Linked DNA regions of Homo sapiens: region 2 is linked to region 1. The links come from fine-mapping of genetic effects on gene expression. A gene starts in region 1. The other region holds a variant in brackets. All regions are shown on one strand. Distances are from middle to middle.

Region 1 (10,845 bases):
TCTAAGCCTCCGACATGAGTTATTTCATTTAATTCTTACAAAACCTATTTGATAGGTACTACTGTTACCCCTCTATAATGTAGATGAGGATGCTTAGGCCCAAACAGGCCAAGTATCTTGCACAAGGCCATGCAGATGATAAGTAGTAGAGGCCAGATATAAATGAACCTAAGCAACCTGACTCCAGATCCCAAACTTATAAAATGAAATGAGGGAAAATACAGTTATATTTCTTGTACATCCAAGTCTATGGCAAGTCTATTTAGTTCTTCTCAAACTTGTCTCTTTGTCTAACAATAGAGCCCCTCTTTCACGCAAAATCTCAAACAGAGCCCCAGTATATAAGACAAATAAGAGCAGGACTGCTCGGTAAAAGCCGAAGTAAACGATAGAGATCTTCATTCCTCAGCATCTCCCTCACCCTGAAGAGGCCCCAAACACTCCTGGAACATAGTTTGAAAACCCCTGTTCCCAACCAATATCACTCTGGATTATGTGCTTGAGAGACAAAAGCAGCCCAGCTAGAACACCAACAACAGCCAGCATAATCAAAGGAAAAAGGCAAAAATAATCCCCCACTGGCAGTTACAGAGGGCCATTCCAATCTGGGCCCTGACACTAACCAGCTCAAGTTTGAGCACTGGAGGGCCCAGAGGTGGTGGAATTCCGGGCTGGAGCAAAGAGTCAGGAATGAGGCAAATCCAATAAACAGGCAGAGGCGGGAGCAGAGCCAACAGGGCGCTGGGGCCAGCGGTCTGTGGTGAGCGAGGCGGCTGCAGGAACAGAGGTGGGAGCGAGAGGGAGGCCAGCCCAGGAACTGCTCCCACGGCTTCGGGCTGTCCAGATGCAGTCTAGGAGATGGCAACAGTGAAAACTTACGAGTATTTCAATAACCAGTGTTCTGGGGAAGAAAAAAACCAACTACACTGCCCTCTTTCTCACCAATTCCAACATTGCATTTTCCCCACGTACAGTCACATACCATTCAGTGGCTGATAGTGTCAGACTCAACAGCCAGAAATGCCTGCCTTTGGGAGTAGTGTGGGTGACAGTTAAGAGTGCCAGAATGCTTGGACTCACATCCCGGATCTCCTGCATACTAGCTGTGTGACCTTGGGTAAGTTACTTAACCTCTCAGTGCCTCAGTTTCCTCATCTGTGATATGCAGATAATAAAAGTACCTACCTCAGAAAGTGGGTTGTGGGGATTAAACAAGTTAGTACCTATAAATTGCTTAGAACAATACCTAGTACGAAGCTCTTACTAAATGCTAGCTATATTATCATTCTCTTATTTTGATAGCTTTCTTCTCACTCCTGACTGCTTTCTCTTTATTCTTCCATGCTGTATTAGTTTCCTACAGCTGCTGCAACAAATGACCACAAACTTAGTAGTTTAAATAATACCAATGTGCCACCCTACAGTTCTGGAGGTCAGAAGTCTAAAATGGGTTAGTAGGGCTACATTCCTTCTGGAGGCTCTAGGAAAGAACTCATTTTCTCTCCTTTTCCAGCTTCTAGAGGCTTGGCTCATGACCCCTTGCTCACATCACTCCTGTCTCCTTCTTCTAAGAACACTCGAGATTAGACTGAGCCCACCCAGATCATCCAGGATCATCTCAAGAGCTTTAATTTAATCACATCTGTAAAAGTCCCTTTTGTCACGTAAAGTAACATATTCACAGGTTCCAGGCATTCAGACTTGGACATCTTTGGTAGATCATGATCTAGCCTACCATCTCCACCTCCCCAAAACCTAACACTGCAGACTGGGAAGACTTGAGGAGCCCTGGGGGAAGAAACAGTAATATTAGTAGTTAACTTTGAGCACTCAGGATGTGTCTGTCTCTATGCAAAGTGCTTTAGGTGAACCATCTCACTTTGGCCTCAAAGCAACCCTGTACAATTACTATTGCTATTTTACGCAAAGGTCAGTTGCTCATCCAAGGTTGTACTAGGTAAACCCCAGGGAAATTTGATTCTAGAGAATCTTGTATTTACGAATAGAGTGTCCAGGCTCTATACCTTAAGCCATGATAACTGGATTCAGGGAGTCAGGTGGGGAAAGATCATTAGGGGCCTCAGAGACTGTGCCGCAAGAGGTATACATGCCCCCTGGCTGCAAAGAGACAGGGGGTCCTGCAGAGGCCACGCTAAACTACACACAAAAGGTCAAATGTCCAGAACATCTCCTCCTACTCAAAGGAGAAACCTTGGGGTTACTCAATAATTTCTTCAAAGGCAGGTTTGGACCAAAATCTAAGAAGAGATCACTGAGGCTTGCCACTACTTGAGGAGGAGAAATGAAATGTCCATTCTTGCCCCCAGACCAGCCTTGCAGTTCCAGTCGAACTCCCACAAGAAAAGAGGAATTCAATTTCCCTAGAAAGACTTCCGACTGAGTCAGATTGATGCAGACCCTCCAAAAACACGCCAGGAGGGCTTACAATCCTGGTAGTCCACCAAATGGCCCTCGCCTGTAACAGTTGATCTATACTAGGACCAAACCACCGGCCACCCTCCACCCCATAACAGTTATGAATATGTAAGCCCCCACATGCCAAAGATTTCAACATGAGCCCAATGGTTTCACCAGTACCCACCTCTTTTCCTACCAGTTCTTACACAGTGAATGCTCAAAAACAAGTGTGGCTGACACAGGGTGGAAAGGGGCAAGCTAAACAATTGCTAAGCACGTCTATTACGGTGGTTGAACTATCCATGGCATTTCAAAACCTCAACTGCTAAACAATTTAGCCAGATCACTATCTGAAACTTTCTAATGAGCTGAGTTAAAGCTATTAGGTTTCACCTAACCAAAAAAAAAAAAAAAAAAAAAAAAAGGATGGTTATTTGTTTTGGGTCATGAGCCCAGAGGTTAATGTAGGATAGCACAGTGATCAAGAGAACAGACTCTGGAGACAGCCCACTTTGACTGGCTCCTGACACTGGCACTTCCTTGCTGTGACTTTATGCAAATCACTTGACCTTTCGTTGCTTCAGTTTTCCCATCTTCAAAATGGGCATAATCATGGAAGTCCACACTCCCTAATCCAAATTCTGAGCAGCCAGCCAACTGTGATTCAGAAGCTTTATGGATTTTGTAATGGTAAAAATGCATATGCCATATCTTACATAACACTTTCAATGGTATCTGCAGCAAATAAAATATGCCCATAATTTCTGAAGTAAAAATATATGTGTAGTTCTCACCAAGTGAGAAAAATAAAGACTGTCATAACCTCACGTCACTTCAGACCAAGTTTTGTAGCCAAATTTATGAAAATCACAGTTTTTAGAGCTTTTTTGATTTTGGAAATACAGCTAAAGGATAAGATCTCTCACATTGACTGAGTAATATATAAAAATTAAATGCGTTAATTGATAAAAGTTCTTGGAGTGGTGCCTGGCATGTAGTAAGCACCATAGTGTTACCAACAACAACTTCTATTATTTTCATGTAAAATTTGGAAACTTTAAAGTTATGACTAAATTTCATTTGGAAACCAGTACACTTTGGAGATTAATAGGAATTACCCCTTTGAAACAATCCTCTAGGGAAGGATTTTCTGAGATGATGAAAATGTTCTATATCTGCACTGTCCAATACAGTAGCCACTAGCTGCATGTAGCTATCAAGCACTTGAAATATGGGTGGTTAATTTCATTTAACTAATTTCAATTCAAATGTAAATAGCCATATGTGGCTAGTGACTACCATGTTGGACAATGTAGCCTCCGAGGGCTTGGTTCCCAATCTGGCCCACGAAAATCTATTTAAGCCATAACACAGATGAATTATAGCCTCGGTAAAAACCCTGCATTCTGCATCCAGGGAGCAGAGAGGAACACATGATGCTAGAGAGAGTTCTGCCCTTCTTTGTAGGCCACATGGTTGGCCTATAACAAAATGCATCTTTGATATCGTCTTCCTCTCTTTCTCCATTCCCTACTCCTCCATCTCCAACTCTCCTCTTTGGGCCTTACATAACTAAATCACATGCTTCCCTAAAACCCTATCAGAACCTTCCACCCCTCTTCCAGAAGCACCATGTTTCCTAATCACCTGTCTTCCCTCGCCTCAACCAAACCCCTACTTGCTCAATGCCACAGATCTCAACTGAACGTTGGGAGGAAAGCAACTTCAGCAAACAAATTCACACTCTTAGCTGCTTCTACTGTTTTTGGCTTTTCCTCTGCTTCTCCTTCTGAACCCAGAAGCTCTGTTTTATTGTTCTTCCACCGCAGAAGTAGTTCCGGCAGAGAGAGAAGGCATTAAGACTAAAGCAACTGTCCTATATAGGCGCCTGTCAGCCAGGTGTGTGGAACACACACGCGCGCGCACACACACACACACACACGTGCAGCAAGCCTCACTCTGTGCAAATCCCTCCTCTTGCCCAGGCATGGGAAACGTCCCCTGCTGTCTACTTTAGAAAACTCTTCCACCATGCACAGTATTTTTTCAATCTTCTTTTATTCATTTAGAAAGTTACAGGTAACAAATTGCACATCAAACAGTTTTTTTAAAGTATACAACAAAAGCCCAGAGAAGAATGTGACTAAGAATGGTTGTAAATAGAAAAACAAAACCAACCGCCTTCATTGGAATCTAGCTTCTAACCCACTGGAGTATGGAATTTTTAATGACAGGTCAAACTTGGACCACATCCCAGGAGTTTATGTTACTAAGAGGACTGGAAGAATGTCCCTCCAGTTCAATCTGGCTTCTTACCTGGTAAGACATGGCTCCTGGGTATAAAGGGAATTTCCCCCATGGGGCTGTAAATAAAGGATAGTGTTAATGGTAAACATTATACATTCCTCTAGCTCCTTTCAATTATATTATCTCCTTCTCCAAAGTAGATATTTATGTTGTAAAACCAAAGTCTTAAGATTTAATACTGGCCCACAATTATCTCTAGAGTCTTCTAGGTGCAAGCATTTTGCCATGAAAGCCACAGCAAATGCCTTCAGTAGGGAAAATGAGACATCTACATAAATAACTCCCAGAAGGTAGAGAGCAGAAAGGGCCCTGGAGAAAAAATGCTGCAGAAATCAGAGCAGGGGGAGGTTGGCTGTTTCAGGAAAAGCCTCACACCACCAGCAAAACACAGTTTGAAGGATGGTTAGACTTTAGAGTGGTGGATGTGGGGGAAGATGTGCCATCAGATGGTCTAGATGACAACACCATCAGACATTCTTCAGAAAAGTATTTATGAAGACATCGATGCATACAATAACCTAGAGATAGTCCACCTCTCTCCTCAATGACAACTGGGCACCTGTACAAGCACCTATGGGGTCACCTGCTTCCACCTCCCAAGTCAGGCTCTCAAAAATTCTCCCTAGTGGGGTCAAGCATTCTTGGCCTCAGTAGTGCCCATTCTGTGGCAGCGGCCCTGCCCTACCTCTACGGGGGGTATAAGAAACATGAAAACATACCAATCCTGCAGAGATCTAAAAGACCTACGGGCAAATTTTGCATAATGCAACTGAAATTATGACCTTCGTGCAAATAAAACTTTTCGAAGACGTGAATCCTACTTAACAGGTATTCAGGGAACTCACTATTTAAAATGACACTGATTAATCACTAAATGAGTCTTACACTGAATAATTGGTTAAGTCGGCTGAACTCAGTGTCTGATGGCTTAAATACAGAGCGAGGGGCGAAAGCTTCCACAAATTTACGCTGTGCACCTAACATTCGCCACGACAGAAGACTTCTTGCTCTAGTGTATTTATTACTGTAGCATTAAAGGACTTGAAGGCAAAGCTAGCTATTCTAGTTATCAGTTAGAGCGGGACCTGGTCCAATATTGTATTTTCTAGGACTTGATGTACACAAATCTCTCCAGGAACAATCTCTTGAGCACTTTCCTTGAAATACCGCTGCTAAGTACCGCCACAAAAAGAGCTTACGTTTTTCTTTGCACTGGCCACCTCCACACCGTATTCACAACACGAAGGGGCGACCTGAGGCAGGCGTCTGGAGTGAAGGCACTGGCAGGGTGTCCTTTAGCCCCTGCGAGGGCGGCCTGCATGCCCTGGAGGACCGCCCGCCTCGGGTCCCCCGGGAGCGCGAGGACACTTTTCCGCCAGGTACGCGGAGTCGGGCTGCTCCCTTAGGCGGGTCGACTGCCTTGGGAGAGAACCAGCCCATCCTTCCCTTTCTCCAGTCCTCAGGAACCGAGCTACAGAGTCGCTTCCTCACCTCTTGGCTCCTGGCGAGTCTCGCCGGCGTCCCCAAGCGCAGCGTCCCTCTGGGACCAGCCGTCCGCGCGCCTGTCGCTAGCGGCGTCGGGTGTCCCCGCTACTGTGTGTCAGCTGCAGAGCCGATGCCCAGGAACGCGCAGGAGCCAGGCAAGTGCCCGAGAGGCAGAGCCCGGGAGGCAGAGCCCGGGAGGTAGAGCCCGGGCGCGCCGCCGCTGCCCCTCCCGCCGCGCGAGCCCGCCGCCCGCCGCGTTGCCCACGTTGCCCAGCGTTACCGTGTGGACCCGCGCCGTTCACAGTCCGCTCCCGCCGAGATGTGCGCGCTGCCCGGACAGCGGCGGCTGCGCGGGCGGCAGCGGGGCCCCCGCCCTGGGCCGGGCTTTCCCAGAACTCGCCCGCCCCGGGTGAGAGGCCGCTAGCGCCACCGCGGGCGGCCGGGCGGGGGAGCGGCCTGTGCCGGGCCCGCCCCCGGCTCCTGCCGCGCGGGGAAGGCGGGCGCGGAGCGAGGACCCGGCCGCCTCCCCCGGAGCTGGCTGCTGGCGGCGCGACCCCTTCCCAGACCCCTGGCCCTGACCCCTAGGAGCCATCCTTTCTGGCGGGAGCCAGAGAGAGCGCTCCTGGGGCGCCCGGCTCCGGGAAGGGCGGGAACTCTGCACACCTCAGGCGGCGGGAATTTACTCTCACACTACCCCAGGGAACCACCCCTGGTTGACAGATATGGAAACTGAGGTTCACGGCAGATAAAGGACACGATCAAGGTCTCTGTAGTAGATGGCAGCACCAAGTCTCGAATCTGTTCTGTCACTCGTTCATTTAATACATATTCATTGAGCCCCATCAATGTGCCCAGCGTTGTGCCAGGCTCCGGAAATACTCCTTTTGCTGGTAATGGTGGCCATCCAGGACTGCGGACTCCAAATCCAGTACTCTTTCATTGCTCAAGCAAACCTGAAGATCTTCACAACTAGAAACTACAGGCTTTGCACAGAACTTCCTTAGCCGCTGGAGCGGCTTTTATGAGTCTTAGGAGAGCCAAGGACCTGGAAAAAAAAATCAAATCATCATCCTCCTCCCTTTCGCCTAAACCTGTGCCTCCTCCCTCTACCTGTTCTAATGGAAGACCGTTCCCTAGGCCTGACCTCTTCTCCTACATCCGATCAGGACCCATTCCTGTGGCCCATATCGCCTCCCACTGTCCTCTCCCTTGGACCAAATCAATCCTTCAAACCACCGCTGTATTATTCTTCCTTTTTTACAACTTTAATCTATGCAGAAAACTTCACTGGCTCCCTATTGCCCTCCAAACTAACTCTCCATGGCTGTGTAACCCAGCATGCCCTGGCTAATAAGGATCACCCAACAGAATGTCTCTCCCACTCTAGCTCTGTACCTGAACTTAAGCTGAGCCTTCTACCTGGAGCATCTCCTCCCACACACTTTCCTCCTGCTCATGTTTGACCCTTTCTTTCGGGTCCCTCTTAAAAGTGATCTCTCCTTCTTGGAGGCTCCAGAACACAGGAGAGGTTGGAGCAAGAAAGCACAGGAGGCCCAAAGAATCCTGCTGTTAAGAAAAATCTGCCAGTCTGGTCCTTAAACTGTCTTGCTGTTTTCTCACCACTAGGACTTTAATGAAAACTAACATGATTGCCTCCCTGGAGAGCTGATTTCAGAAAGGTCTCTGCAGAGGGCTCTAAAGAAATTCTTTGTTCCTTAAGATCTTGGCATTTTAGCACTAGGACAGTGAGAAGTGGTAATTTACTCAATCCCTGAGGCTATGTTATCCTGAACAAGTAAATAAAGGGCTGAGGAAAGAGGTAGCATCACTGACAATAAACAAGGTAGGCTATTTATTTAATATACAGTATTATATTATGGTTTTATAATTCATTTAATGATCAAATAATATCAAACTTCATCCATCACCTGGCACCCCCAAAGACTTTTTTTTTTTAATTTGGCACATGGGAATAGATAGCTACAAACTGGTAGATGCACAAGCAGTTAACATTGAATCCTCCAAATGAGTCATTGCATGATTAGTAAGCAAGGCAAATCTAGGTCCGTTGAGCAGGAAAGTTATCCAAGTGTGATAATCACTGTGGCCCCATCCCTAGAAAGGGGCGCCTTCCTCAAATCTTTGCAAAGAGAGCAGGTCCAGATCAGTGTCCTTTGCTCGCCCCATGGCTCCCTCTCTAAACGAGATTGGAGGGAAGTCGTGTCCCCGAGGCTGCCTCACCACATTGGAATGTCTGAGCTAACAGTACTTCCAGAGTGTTCATTGCTCCTCTGAACAGCACTGCCCAGACTTTCTGGAGATTTTAATTCACTCCCCAACCTCGCCAACAGTTGCACACAAGGTGCCTTTTTTACACCCTGCTCTCTGTTCAGTGAAACACACAGACCATCTCAGGGGAACAATGGCTCCATTCAAGACTTTTTCAGAAGTGCACCATATAACCTCCACTCTGTGGGCTGCTGCCAGCCATTATCTAGAGGAAGAAAGACTGTCAGATAAAGCGCCTGAGAATTGGGAAAGCACTGGATAATTTCCATGGAAAATTCAGCTTCAGTAAACTAAGTTATGCATCTCTTTATACAAGACCATTCTGCATAGACAACAACAACAGCCCCAAGAAACAATCCTGTGGAGACTTTATTTCAGTAAAGTGCATCTATGTTTGAAATTTCAGAAGAAAACACACATGTCTTTTGAGCTTATTACATTACATACTGGTCTCCAGTCAATGGAAATTGATTTAAATACATGATAAACATAGAGACTAGGGAATTTAAGTAGTAAAATTATTTTAAGAAACGGAACCATCTTCCCTCTTTCTTTCTGCCTCCCCTATCCTGTAATTTTCAGAAAGGAGGTGGGGGCAGTGGTCTCTGACTTCATGGTGGTGGTTGCCAACAAGAGGCCCCACACCCTCTACTGCACATATTACAGAAGAAGGATTGGCGCTTTGCCACACTCAACAAGCCAGCCATCAGTTAACCCGTTCATAAACAAACCATTAGTTTGGGAACTGAGTAGTCAGTGTGGGCACCATTGACTAATGCATTGATCTTTGTCAAACAGCTGCTGATCGTCAAACAGAGGAATTTGCCAACAGACATCTGGGTAGCACAAAGGCCAAGGAAGGACTGAAGGAACAAGGCAGCCCTCAGCTTTTGCAGTTGCCATTTTCTCCCTTTCAAAGTCACTGCATCAAACTGTACCGGGCTTACTAGCTGTCTGCAAATAGACTAGCAAGTTCAGATGGTGAGCAGAGAGCCAAAAACACACTTCCTAGAGTTGTCTTGTATGTGAGGTTAGATGTACTAAGGCAGTTTGAGGTTGATGAAAAACAACCAGCTTGTTAAAGCTGTAGGTATCTCTACCTGTGTGACATGGTTAGGAGTGAGGGTCCCCAGGGAACAGTAAGCAAAGCAGGGAAAGATGATCTTAAACATCCTCTCTCAGCGCAGCCGGTGTTAGGGGAACAGAATTTGGTGTGGGACCACTTGAGTTGGATGCTCAGATCCACCCCCAAGTTGTGAGCCCTCGGACAGGTTACTTATCTCACTGTGCCTCATTTTCCTCTAGATAAATTGTACCTACCTGATATGGTTTGGCTGTGTCCCCACCCAAATCTCAAATTGTAGTTCCCATAATTCCCCCGTTGTTGGAGGGACCCAGTGAGAGGTAATTGAATCGTGAGGATGGGCCTTTCCCATGCTGTTCTCATGACAGTGAATAAGTCTCACGAGATCTGATGGTTTTATAAAGGGGAGTTTTCCTGCACATGCTCTTTCTGTCTTGCCTGCTGCCATGTAAGCTGTGACTTTGTTCCTCCTTGCCTTCTGCCATGATTGTGAGGCCTCCCTAGCCAAGTGGAACTGTGATTCCATTAAATCTCTTTTTCTTTATAAATTACCCAGTCTTGGGTATGCTTTATGAGCAGCGTGAGAACAGACTAATACAGTACCCCTCAGCGTAATTGTGAGGATTAAATGAGCCAGTGTATATGAAAACACTTAGAACGTATAAAGGTTTATTACTTAAATAAATAAAACTCAGATTTTTATTTTCATTTAGACTTATGGTATTTAAAGGCCATAAACCCCTTTGAATATTCCAAAATCTTGTCAATCTTTTGACAGAACATTTTTTTCTTCTTGAAACATTCAGGAATCTCATTGTAATACCTGGTTCAGAGTTGTTGTCAGCAAAAGTTGGGACCAGCTCAAATTGTTTCAAGGAGCCATAATGAAAAATTATAAAAGCACAATTTTTTAAAAAAAGTTTTAGCAACACTGGAATTCCAAAGCATAGACATTAGAAACTTCTTGTTTTTCTTCTCGAGGTAGGGTCTTGCTCTGTCACCCAGGCTAGAGTGCAGTAGTGTGATCATAGCTCACTGTAACCTAGAACTCCTGGGCTCAAGTGATCCTCCCTCCTCAGCCTCCTGAGTAGCTAGGACCACAGGCAAGCACAACCATGCCCAGCTAATTTAAAAAAAAATTGTTTTGTAGAGATGATGTCTTGCTATGTTGCCCAGGCTGGTCTTGAACTCCGGCCTCAGGTGTGGAGACTTCTCTAGATGTAGTTTTTAAGGTTTTATGTTGTTCTTAGTGGCCAAAATGC
Region 2 (10,845 bases), 270 kb before region 1:
GACAGCAATCCATTACTGGGGCTTAGTGGCCACTAGAGTTTCTGCAACTAAGCTCAGATAGTGGAATGATTCTCATTTTAACACTTTTATATGGGATAAGTGCTATATTCTTCCTATTTTACAGCATAGTCAGTGGCCTAGAATCTCAAGGCTATCTGCTTCTTTCAGCAGCTAGAGTATCTAGAGGTGCAGTGCCTTGGGCTGGAAATTGCTATGTAAAATGGTGGCTGGAACACCAAGCTGCTTATCTCTGTGGTGCCCCTGCCAGACCAGGAATAATGTTCAGCAACTGGCAACAGATGAGATGGCTTTTCAGCATTGAAGGACTAAAGGTCTTCACCAAAGTCTGTGTAACCTTAGATATCCACATATGGCTAGAAGAGGAAAACCTGGGCTGGAAATTCTAGATGAGAAGAACAGGGCTTATTCTCACTTCCCATTTGCCCCATGGAGTAATGTTAAGAGGTAATTAGGAAGGGCTAAGGAAGAGTGGAGAGGGGTTAGAAATGAAGTAAGAGGGATCCACCTGCACACTAGGTTTAGTCACATCTCTGAGTCTATTTGAGGGGTTCTTGTGCCTTATTCAAAAGCTGTGAGAGTCTCTCCTTGGGGTGTGATATTAAGAGGTTTAAAAACTGTTTGAAGTCAAACAGAGGAATGAAATAGAAATTAAAGCCAGGACACTGGTCCTTGTTTATTTCCCTGGGATAAATGTGGATACACACAAGTACATAAATATACATAGATATGTATATATGCACTTACACATATATGTACACGCATGTATATGTGTGTACCTACAAATGTGTATATGAAATATATATAAGTATCTGTATTTATATGTATATTTAATTTCATTCCTATAGAATAATGGATTTCAAACTTCTTTTAACTTTGGCATTCTGTGTGCGAAGGGAGGGCCAGTATGTAGTGTGTAGAGGAGTAGTACATTACCTGAAATGGGGCAGCGTATGGCACCCCTCCTACTCTCTGGCTTCCTCATCTCAGTGTGGGGGGCTGAGGCCCCATGACAGAACTTCTATTTTGAAAATCACTGCTCTAAGAACACATCTTCATTCATAATAAAGTTTCCTTAGAAAATAGAGTTTAAAATACATATTCCCGCTAAGCAAGCTTTGGGACAAAAAATTGCCCCATGCTTTGAGGAATATCTGGACTAATCTGGAGAACAAAGAAACCTCACTGGTGCTGGGGTTATGTAAACAATACACCTGTAGTTTTCAAACCTGGACCCACGTGTGCACACAATGACACACTTATATTCCCTGCCTGGCTCCAACCGAATTGACCCTTCTTGAAAGAGTTAAGAAAAAAGGCAGAATAGATGAGGAAGCTGCAGACCATCCAGCAGAGAGGCAATGGACACGCAGATCATTGCAAGTTGGATGTTTAGGTCAAAAGGATGTACTTTTTCTAGTCTAGAGAACCTACTGAGTTTCAAAGAACATTCTGATGAATTTAATGTGTAGGGACAGTGCCTAAAGTCTGTGTAGATTTTTTTCTGCATTTTTTTTGGTTACCATAGGGATAGATTGATTATTTAACAAACTGAAAAGCAAAACAAACAATATTTTGGGAATAAGTACATAGGAAGTTGCATTTTCTACTATGCTTTCCCACTACAATATATTATTTAGCAGTTAGAGAGACGATTAGATAATTTTCCCATGGGAAAATCTAATTTTAGTGGGAGTAGGTCAGACTAACTAGGATCTAAAAGCTATGAGTCTCAAACAAACACTTTCATTTTGGCCCAGAATAAAGGTTAAGTATAGATGGGGGAAAACAAAACAAAAGAAGTAAAGAAAACGACTGCTGTAGTATAGCCAGTTTTCCCACACATCATGGTTCCTCACATTTGACATGTAATAGCTTACTCTATAAGCTCTTCAAAGGAGTCTGGGGTCAGGTTTTTTTGACTTTGGGGGTTACATAAATAATTAGGTTTAATAAAAACCACATTCCAAGTGGCATTCCCTGTACCTGGCTGTAGAGTTCTACCGAGGATTCTCCTTTGAGCTGATGGCCCGTGAGGTAGGTATTGTGCGAAGATTCGATGTAATAGTATGAGAGGGGTAGCTGCAGTTCTTTAATGTTCTCCTGTGACTCATCATTTTTTGAGGCAAAATTTTCTTTATCCATCAGAAACCTAGGTGAAACAAATTTTCTTAAGACTGCATGGGAAAAATGCATCTACTCTTAAAAGATGGGCAAAAGATATTTTAAAAGTTACCTGGCAAACCCTTCAAATGACATTAGTCCCTGATGACACATACTGATGCTAGGCTCGAACTTCTGCAAGGGATTAAAAAAAAAAGTGTTATTTAGGTTAAGGAAACTAAGAGGGGGAAAGAAACCACCACATCATTTTTTAAAGCTGTTCTGTTTTCATCAGGAAACATCTAAACCAAATATTTGAACTAATTTAGTAACGTAGTGGTAAGAAGTAGTTTTTAGTCCAAAAGAAAACATTTATTATATGTGAGTTTATTATACTAAGCATATTTATTTAATAGAAAAAAGAAGAGAATGAGAAAAGAAGGCTGATTTCTATGAAAACAAAGTGTATCAGTTTATCCAGGTGAAAATGGGGATAATAATAGCAGCTACCATAAAGTTGGTGAGAGGTGAACTGAGATGATTCACATAGAGCACTTAGTGCCATGCCTGTATTTAGTAAAATCATAATGAGCACTCAACAGTGTGATAGTAATCTCACAATTTTAGCATTTTCGGTGATCAAATCCAACTGCTGGACAACTAATACACTGATACCCAGTCAGGTGATAAGGGAGGTTGAAACCTAGACTCATTTGTTGCATGGAGCCACACCGCTCCTCTCTGCTGACACCCTGTAGTGTAAACCTTCACCAGCTATTGCTGGTTACTATGATAGCTTCCTAAGCAGTCTCTCTGCATCTGTTCCTTCACCCACACAGTTTACAATGGGGCCAGAGTAACCACTTAAAATTTTGTTTTAGAGACAGGGTCTTACTATATTGCCCAGCCTGGCCTCAAACTTCTGGGCTCAGGCAATCCTTCTGCCTCAGCTTCCTGAGTAGCTGGGACTACAGGTTTGTGCCACCATGCGTGGCTCAGAGTAATCTCATAAAAAATAAATCAGCCAGGCGCGGTGGCTCACGCCTGTAATCCTAGCACTTTGGGAGGCTGAGGTGGGTGGATCACGAGGTCAGGAGTTCGAGACCAGCCTGGCCAACATGGTGAAACCCCATCTCTAGTAAAAATACAAAAATTAGCTGGGCATGGTGCTGTGTGCCTGTAATCCCAGCTACTTGGGAGGCTGAGGCAGGAGAATTGCTTGAACCTGGGAGGCGGAGGTTGCAGTGAACAAAGATCGCGCCACTGCCCTCCAGCCTGGGTGACAGAGCAAGACTCTGTCTCAAAAAAAAAAAAAAAAAAAAAAAAAAATCAAATCATGTTACTCCCCTGCTCAAAAATTTCAGTGGTATCCCATTTCACATGGACTAAAGCCAACCTCCTTATCAAGCTCTAAAAGGCCCGGATGATTGGGCCCTTGCACATCTGTCTGACACCATGCCTGCCATTCTCTGCCTGGCTTGTGCAGCTCACAGTACACCAGCTTTTTGTGGTTCCTCATAAACCCCCAGCTTGCTGCTGTCTTGGTCTTTGACCTTGTGGCTCCCTGTGGGGAATGCTCTTTCCCGAGACCATCAAACTGGTTATTGACTTAGGGCTCAGTCCAAATGCCACCTCTTCCAAGTGGCCTTTGCTTACTCTCCTCAGCCCACCTCCTGTATCATTCCATTCCTTTACTTGACTCAGTTTTTCCCCTACCCCATTATTACCTGAAATTACATCGTATCTTTGTTGTCTGCCTCACCTTCTAGAATGTAAGCTGCATTGAGGACCAGAACTTTTATCTTATTCTCTGCTATATTCCCACCTCCTAAAACTGAGCCAGCATAGTAGGAACTAGTGCATGTTCATTTAATGACTAATGAGGTTGAAAACCTAGACTAAATCTGTTGCATGTTCTAGAATAACAACAAAAAATTATGTACCAACTCCTTATAATAGTTACTGAGTTAGAGAAAGCCTGGGACCTACATTAATATGTAATAATACACTAATAATATGTTAATATTATTACACTAATAATGTTAAAGAAGAACATATAATATGTTAAAGAAAAACATATTATGTAATAATACACTAATAATATGTTAAAGAAGAACACTTACATACTTGTTTTTTGTTTGTTTTTTTGAGACAGGGTTTCGCTCTGTTACCCAGACTGGTGTGCGGTGGTGTGATCTTAGCTCACTGCAACCTCTGTGACTCCTGGGCTCAAGCGATTCTCGTGTCTCAGCCTCCCAGGTAGCTGGGATTATAAGCGTGGACCACCATGCCTGGCTGATTTTTCTTTTTCTTTTTTTTTTTTTTTTTGAGATGGGGTCTTGCTCTGTTGCCGAGGCTGGAATGCAGTGGTGTGATCTCAGCTCACTGCAGTCTCTGCCTCCCGTGTTCCAGTGATTCTCCTGCTCCAC[T/C]CTCCCAGGTAGCTGGGATTACAGGCACGCACCACCACACCTGGCTAATTTTTGTATTTTTAGTGGAGATGCAGTTTCACCATGTTGGCCAGACTGGTCTTGAACTCCTGATCTCAGGTGATCCACCGGCCTCAGCCTCCCAGAGTGCTGGGATTACAGGCATGAACCACCACACCCAGCCCATACTTGGTATTTTGTTAAAAAACATACTTGGTATTTTGTTAAAAAAACAAAACAAAACAAGGTCGGGCGCAGTGGCTCACGCCTGTAATCCCAGCACTTTGGGAGGCCGAGGTGGGCAGATCACGAGGTCAAGAGATTGAGACCATCCTGGCCAACATGGTGAAACCCCATCTCTACTAAAAACACAAAAATTAGCTGGGCGTGGTGGCGCACACCTGTAGTCCCAGCTACTCAGGAGGCTGAGGCAGGAGAATCGTTTGAACCTGGGAGGCGGAGGTTGTAGTGAGCCGAGATCACACCACTGCACTCCAGCCTGGCCACAGAGTAAGACTCTGTCTCAAAAACACCCAAAAAAACAAAAAAAAAAACAAAACTGTATATCTGTCCCAGATTTAAAGGCTTTGGAAAGAAGTATAGAAAGAATAAACATTTAGCAGCAAATTATTAGAATAGCCAGAGGCATCACACACACATGCACACACAAAACAGGCACAAACCTGGATGATGCTGAGGATTTCATCATAAGTGCAGTGTTCTCCTTGGCAATTCACGAGGAAATCGTTGAGCTGAAGTATGCCCACCCCAAAAATGCCCAGAGATGTGCTCTCAATCCCAGTGCCATTTGTCACAATGCTTGCAGCAGCAATGGCATCAGATATCTGCCTCTGGTTGTCCGATAGCTGCTGTTTACTCTTAATGAACAACCCCAAATCCGAGACATTTCTGGTCAACAGATCTGAAACAGAATCACCACAGTACATGGACAAGATAGCCAGCATCTTTTGCAAAGTTCATTTTGGAGATAATGGTGTGGAGTTATTAAAATGGAGAAGCTCTTTACTAATGTACCTAAACAAGCCATCAAAGAAGTGTTTATTTCTGGCTTCACATAGTGATAGGAATAAAAAACAAATCAATGAATAAATAAAGGCTGAGCATGGTGGCTCATGACTGTAATCCTAGCACTTTGGGAGGCTGAGGCAGGTGGACCACCTGAGGTCTGGAGCTCAAGACCAGCCTGGCCAACATGGTGAATCCCCGTCTCTACTAGAAATACAAAAATTAGCCAGGCATGGTGGTGTGCACCTGTAGTCCCAGCCACTCGGGAGGCTGAGGCATAAGAGTTGCTTGAACCCAGGAGGCGGCGGTTGCAGTGAGCCAAGATTACGCCACTGCACTCTAGCCTGGGCAACAGAGTGAGAGTCTGTCTCAAAAAAAAAAAAAAAAAGGAAAAGAAGACAGAGCTAGGTTGATGATCTTGATATCCCATGTGGTATTACATGGCAACTAAATGTAGGTTCAGCTGGGGACTTAGGTGAAATTCAGGCTTTGGTTTTAGGGAGTAACTACTTGCACATTTTTGTTTGTAGAGATTGAAGATATACCCTTAAAATTACAGTTTTACTGTTTAATATAAGCATTTGTTTACAGATTTTTATGTGAATATAAATTTTTCAACTCATTTGGGTAAATACCAAGTACTGTAATTGCTGGTCACATGGAAGGAATATGTTTAGCTTAGTAAGAAACTGCCACACTGTCTTCCAAAGTGGTTGTACCAGTTTACATTCCCACCTGCAATGTTCCAATTGCTTCACATTCGCACCAACTTTGGTATGGCCATTTTAATTTTAGCCACTTTGGAAGACAGTCTGGCAGTTTCTTATGGAGCTAAACATAGGCTTACCATATGATCCAGCAATTGCACTCTTAGGTATTTACCCAAATGATGGAAAAACTTATGCCCACACAAAAACCTGAATACAAATGTTTATAGCAGCTTTATTCATAATTGCTAAAACTTGGAAGCAACCAAGATATACTTCAGTAGGTGAATGGATAAACAAACTGTAGTACCTCCGCAAAATGGAATGTTACCCAGGGTAAAAAGAAATGGGCTACCAAGCTGCAAAAAGCCACGGAGGAAGGAAACTTAAATGCATATTGCTAAGTGAAAGACGCCAGTCTGAAAATGCTATGTACTGTGTGATTCCAACTATATGACATTCTGGAAAAGGCAAAACTATGGAGATAATAAAAAGAGCAGTGGCTGCCAGGGATTTGGAGGGAGGTCGCGGGGGGGATGGAAAAATGAAGCATAAGGAACTTTCAGGGCAGTGAAACTGTCCTGTATGATACTGTAAAGGTGGATACATGTCATTACACATTTGTCAAAACCCATAGAATGCACAACACAAACAGTGAATCCTAACGTTAACTATGGACTTCAGTTCATCATAATATATCAATATTAACTCAATTGTAACAAATGTACTACACTAATGCCAGATATTACTAACAGAAGAAAGTCTGTGTGGGAGAGTAGAAGAGAGTATATTGGAACTCTGTACTTTCCACTCATTTTTCCATAAACCTAAAATTGCTCTAAAAATAAAGTCTAAGCTGGGCATGGAGGCTCATGCCTAAGATCCCTGCACTTTGGGAAGCTGAGGCAGGAGGATTGCTTGAGGCTAGGAGTTTGAGAGCAGCCTGGTCAACAGAGCAAGACCCTGTCTCTACAAAAAATTACATTATTTTAAAATAATAATATTTTAAAATAAAACAAAAATAAAAAATACATGAAAATCATGATAAATAATAAAATAATAAAATATAATAGAACAAAAAATAAAGTCCAATAATTTTTGAAAAATGTAACTACTTGACTAATCCATGGTTATGGAGATTTTATGACTAAAGTTGAACAATACTTAATAGTCTTAGCTCAAGGACAACATAAACTTATAAATAATTATGAAGCAACTGCATAAAAGAGGAAAGTTTTTTGTTTTGCTATTTGTGTTTATAGTTTCCAGGAAGAACAGAGGAGGAAAATGATAGGCTGGAAATGCATAAGTGGTTAGAAAATGCATGGGTGGTGATAGTAATGGTGGTGGTGGTGAGTGAGATAGAAGAATGAGACATTCTTGTTTATACAGTAGGAAATATATCCTGGACAATCATTCAGACAGAAGTACCCTGTGGAAGGCGCTAAAGACTCTCCTTGTCAAAGGGCAGGAGACTACTGCCCTGTGATTGAACACACAACTGTCTGTAGGTAGGGAAGAGACTGGGGGTTCTCCACTGTGACACACACCACATACCTAGCAGACATTTGGAAATGGTCAGTGATATGGTTTGGCTGTGTCCCCACCCAAATTTCATCTTGAATTGTAGCTCCCACAATTCCATGTTGTGGAAGGGACCTGGTGGGAGGTAGTTGAATCATGGGGGCAGGTCTTTCCCATGTGAAAATGTTCTCATGATAGTGAATAAGTCTCATGAGATCTGATGGTTTTATAAAGGGGAGTTTTTCCTGCACAAGTTCTCTTGTCTGCTGCCATGTGAGACACGCCTTTCATCTTCTTCCATGATTGTAAGGCCTCCCCAGCCAGGTGGAACTGTGAGCCCCTTAAACCTCTTTTTCCTTATAAATTACCCAGTCTTGGGTATGTCTTCATCAGCAGCATGAAAATGGACTAATATAGTCGGGAAAGGGTTTTTGGTTGTCAGAATGACTGGAAGGCTTTATTGGTTAAATAAATACATGGGCAGAACCACACAATGATGAATTTCTTTGCTCAAAATGCCAGTAGCACCTGCTCCCTCAACACCAGATGACACCTTAAAATAATTCTCTAAGTGTTGGCCAGGTGAGGTGGCTCATGCCTGTAAACTCAGCACTTTGGGAGGCTGAGGTGGCAGATCACGAGGTCAGGAGATCGAGACCATTCTGGCTAACATGGTGAAACCCTTGTCTCTATTAAAAATACAAAAAATTAGCCAGGCATGGTGGCACATGCCAGTAGTCCCAGCTACTCAGGAGGCTGAGGCAGGAGAATCAATTGAACCCGGGAGGTGGAGGTAGCAGTGAGCTGAGATTGCACCACTGCACTCCAGCCTGGGCTACAGAGTGAGACTGCATCTCAAAAAAAAAAAAAAAATTCTCTTAAGTCTTTCCCTACACAGCAGTAATAGCACACTATGTGGGACAGGCTCAGAGTTTGTGTGACTGGACCTCTGACCTTAAGTTTTAGACAGATTGATCCCAAAGGGAAATCCTAAAATGTTCAACAAACCTAGGTCAGGCTGAAGATCGCTGGTGTTTTCATCAATTGTCAGGTTGGTGTAGAGTGGGGCTGACTCGGAGCCAGATCGGTTGCAGGGCACTGCATAGACATCAAACAGATCCTTCAGGTCCTTGCGGCTCCTGACACTGAATGAGGAATGGAAAACACCTCTCATTGAGTATCTTTATAGAAATGGGGGGGCCTGAGAAAGAATAAGAAGGAAACATAAGACTGTACCTGAATGATTTGAACAGCTCAACAAATTCAACAAAACTCATGTTGCTATCTGAAACCATGAAGCTCTGAAATCCCTTCATGCCGCCTTTGATCCGCCCGTGCCAGCTACTACTGCTCCAAGCACTGCAACAAAGACAAGGCCTTCATGGGCACAAGGGCAGGCCACTGTTGTGATTCTGTCCCACCAGACTTGCTCCAATTAGCAATATGAGCAAAAGGATGAGTGCAAGTTATTTAAGATTGAAGCTATTTTCCAGTACTCTCTTTTCACATCTCTTAACCTATATTGTATCAGAGGAAATAAAACATGTTCTATGTGAAAAAGAAAACATGTTTCTAGTCTATTTAATAAGGGCCCAGGGCTGAGGTTAATATTCCTCTATTAATCAAATCAGTTCTTTGAAATTGCAGATCAATGGGCAAAATAACTCAGTGTTTCTGAAGATGTCTATTAAAAAGAGCCCCAAATTACTCACTCTTAATCTATGGGAAATAATGCACGTTCTTTTCTATATTCTAAGTTATAGAATTACATTTAAGAAGAAACCTTTGAGTGTATTGTCTGATTCCTTTCTTAACCAGTCCTTAGATGAAAACAGAGAAGAGCTTTTAAATATTAATGAAAAATGTGAACCGGAAAAATGTTAAGAATGGAAAGGGCTGGGTGCGGTGGCTCATGCTTATAATCTCAGCACTTTGGAAGGCTGAGGTGGGAAGATTGCTTGACCCCAGGTGTTCGAAACCAGCCTGGCCAACATAGTGAGGCACTGTCTCTAATTTTAGAAAATTTAAAAAAGAATGGAAAAAAGCCAGCTTTGACTAGGATTATATTTGCACCTTCCAAGGCTGCATCTATTCAATGTAGAAATATCAGTCAACTCAGAACAGACTTACTGTTTCACAACATTTTTTATTTTCTATACTGATTTCCTGACACAATGGTATGAGAGATGTTTTGATTATGGTTTGTAGTCAAATTAATGAACAGGATCTATTTTTTAAATTATACTTTAAGTTCTAGGGTACATGTGCACAATGTACAGGTTTGTTACATATGTATACATGTGCCATGTTGGTATGCTGCACCCATTAACTCGTCCTTTACATTAGGTATATCTCCTAATGCTATCCCTCCCTCCTCCCTCCACCCCACAACAGGCCCTGGTGTGTGATATTCCCCGCCCTGTGTCCAAGTGTTCTCATTGTTCAATTCCTACCTATGAGTGAGAACACGCGGTGTTTGGTTTTCTGTCCTTGCGATAGTTTGCTGAGAATGATGGTTTCCAGCTTCATCTATGTCCCCACAAAGGACATGAAGCTCATCCTTTTTATGGCTGCATAGTATTCCAATGGTGTCTATGTGTCACATTTTCTTAATCCAGTCTATCATTGATGGACATTTGGGTTGGTTCCAAGTCTTTGCTATTGTGAATAGTGCCGCAATAAACATACGTGTACATGTGTCTTTATAGCAGCATGATTTATAATCCTTTGGGTATATGCCCAGTAATGGGATGGCTGGGTCAAATGGTATTTCTAGTTCTAGAGGACCTGTTTTTTTTTGTCTTGGATTTTAAAAGTTTTTTTTGAAATATTTCAAATATATAAGAAAGTATAGAGAATATCATGAAGTCTATTTTATGTATATTAAATATATAATCTAAAAACTATATATTTAAGACTATAAATATAAAATATATAGTTTGTTGAAGTGACTCTCAACCCTGCTAACAATGTTCACTCATGGAAAATTAATTTGTGCTGACATTTGAAGGTCACCTTCAGCAATGAAAGAGCACTACAAA

Alleles and levels. Positions count from the first base shown, and alleles are read on the strand shown. Sizes are in standard deviations (SD) of each study's normalised expression.
For the expression in pancreas of the gene that starts at base 6,544 in region 1, allele C in region 2 goes with a higher level than allele T (large effect, 1.1 SD a copy in GTEx).

The links. PIP is the estimated chance that this variant, and not a neighbour inherited with it, causes the effect.
Region 2: its variant is fine-mapped to the expression of PLCE1 in pancreas (GTEx, PIP above 0.99).

The regions. Positions count from the first base shown.
Region 1 is chr10:93,989,630-94,000,474 of GRCh38, reverse strand. PLCE1 (phospholipase C epsilon 1) reads right to left here and starts at 6,544. Exons shown (of 33, transcript NM_016341.4): 1 at 6,217-6,544. LOC105378438 (a long non-coding RNA gene) reads right to left here. Exons shown (of 4, transcript XR_946215.2): 4 at 6,756-7,255. RefSeq lists a silencer at 6,441-6,730.
Region 2 is chr10:94,257,118-94,267,962 of GRCh38, reverse strand. PLCE1 (phospholipase C epsilon 1) reads right to left here. Exons shown (of 33, transcript NM_016341.4): 12 at 9,041-9,163; 13 at 8,813-8,949; 14 at 5,231-5,469; 15 at 2,255-2,316; 16 at 2,005-2,170. Among named protein-coding and RNA genes, the nearest start is that of PLCE1-AS1, 25 kb to the left of the region's middle. The variant T/C (reference allele first, on the strand shown) is at 4,551.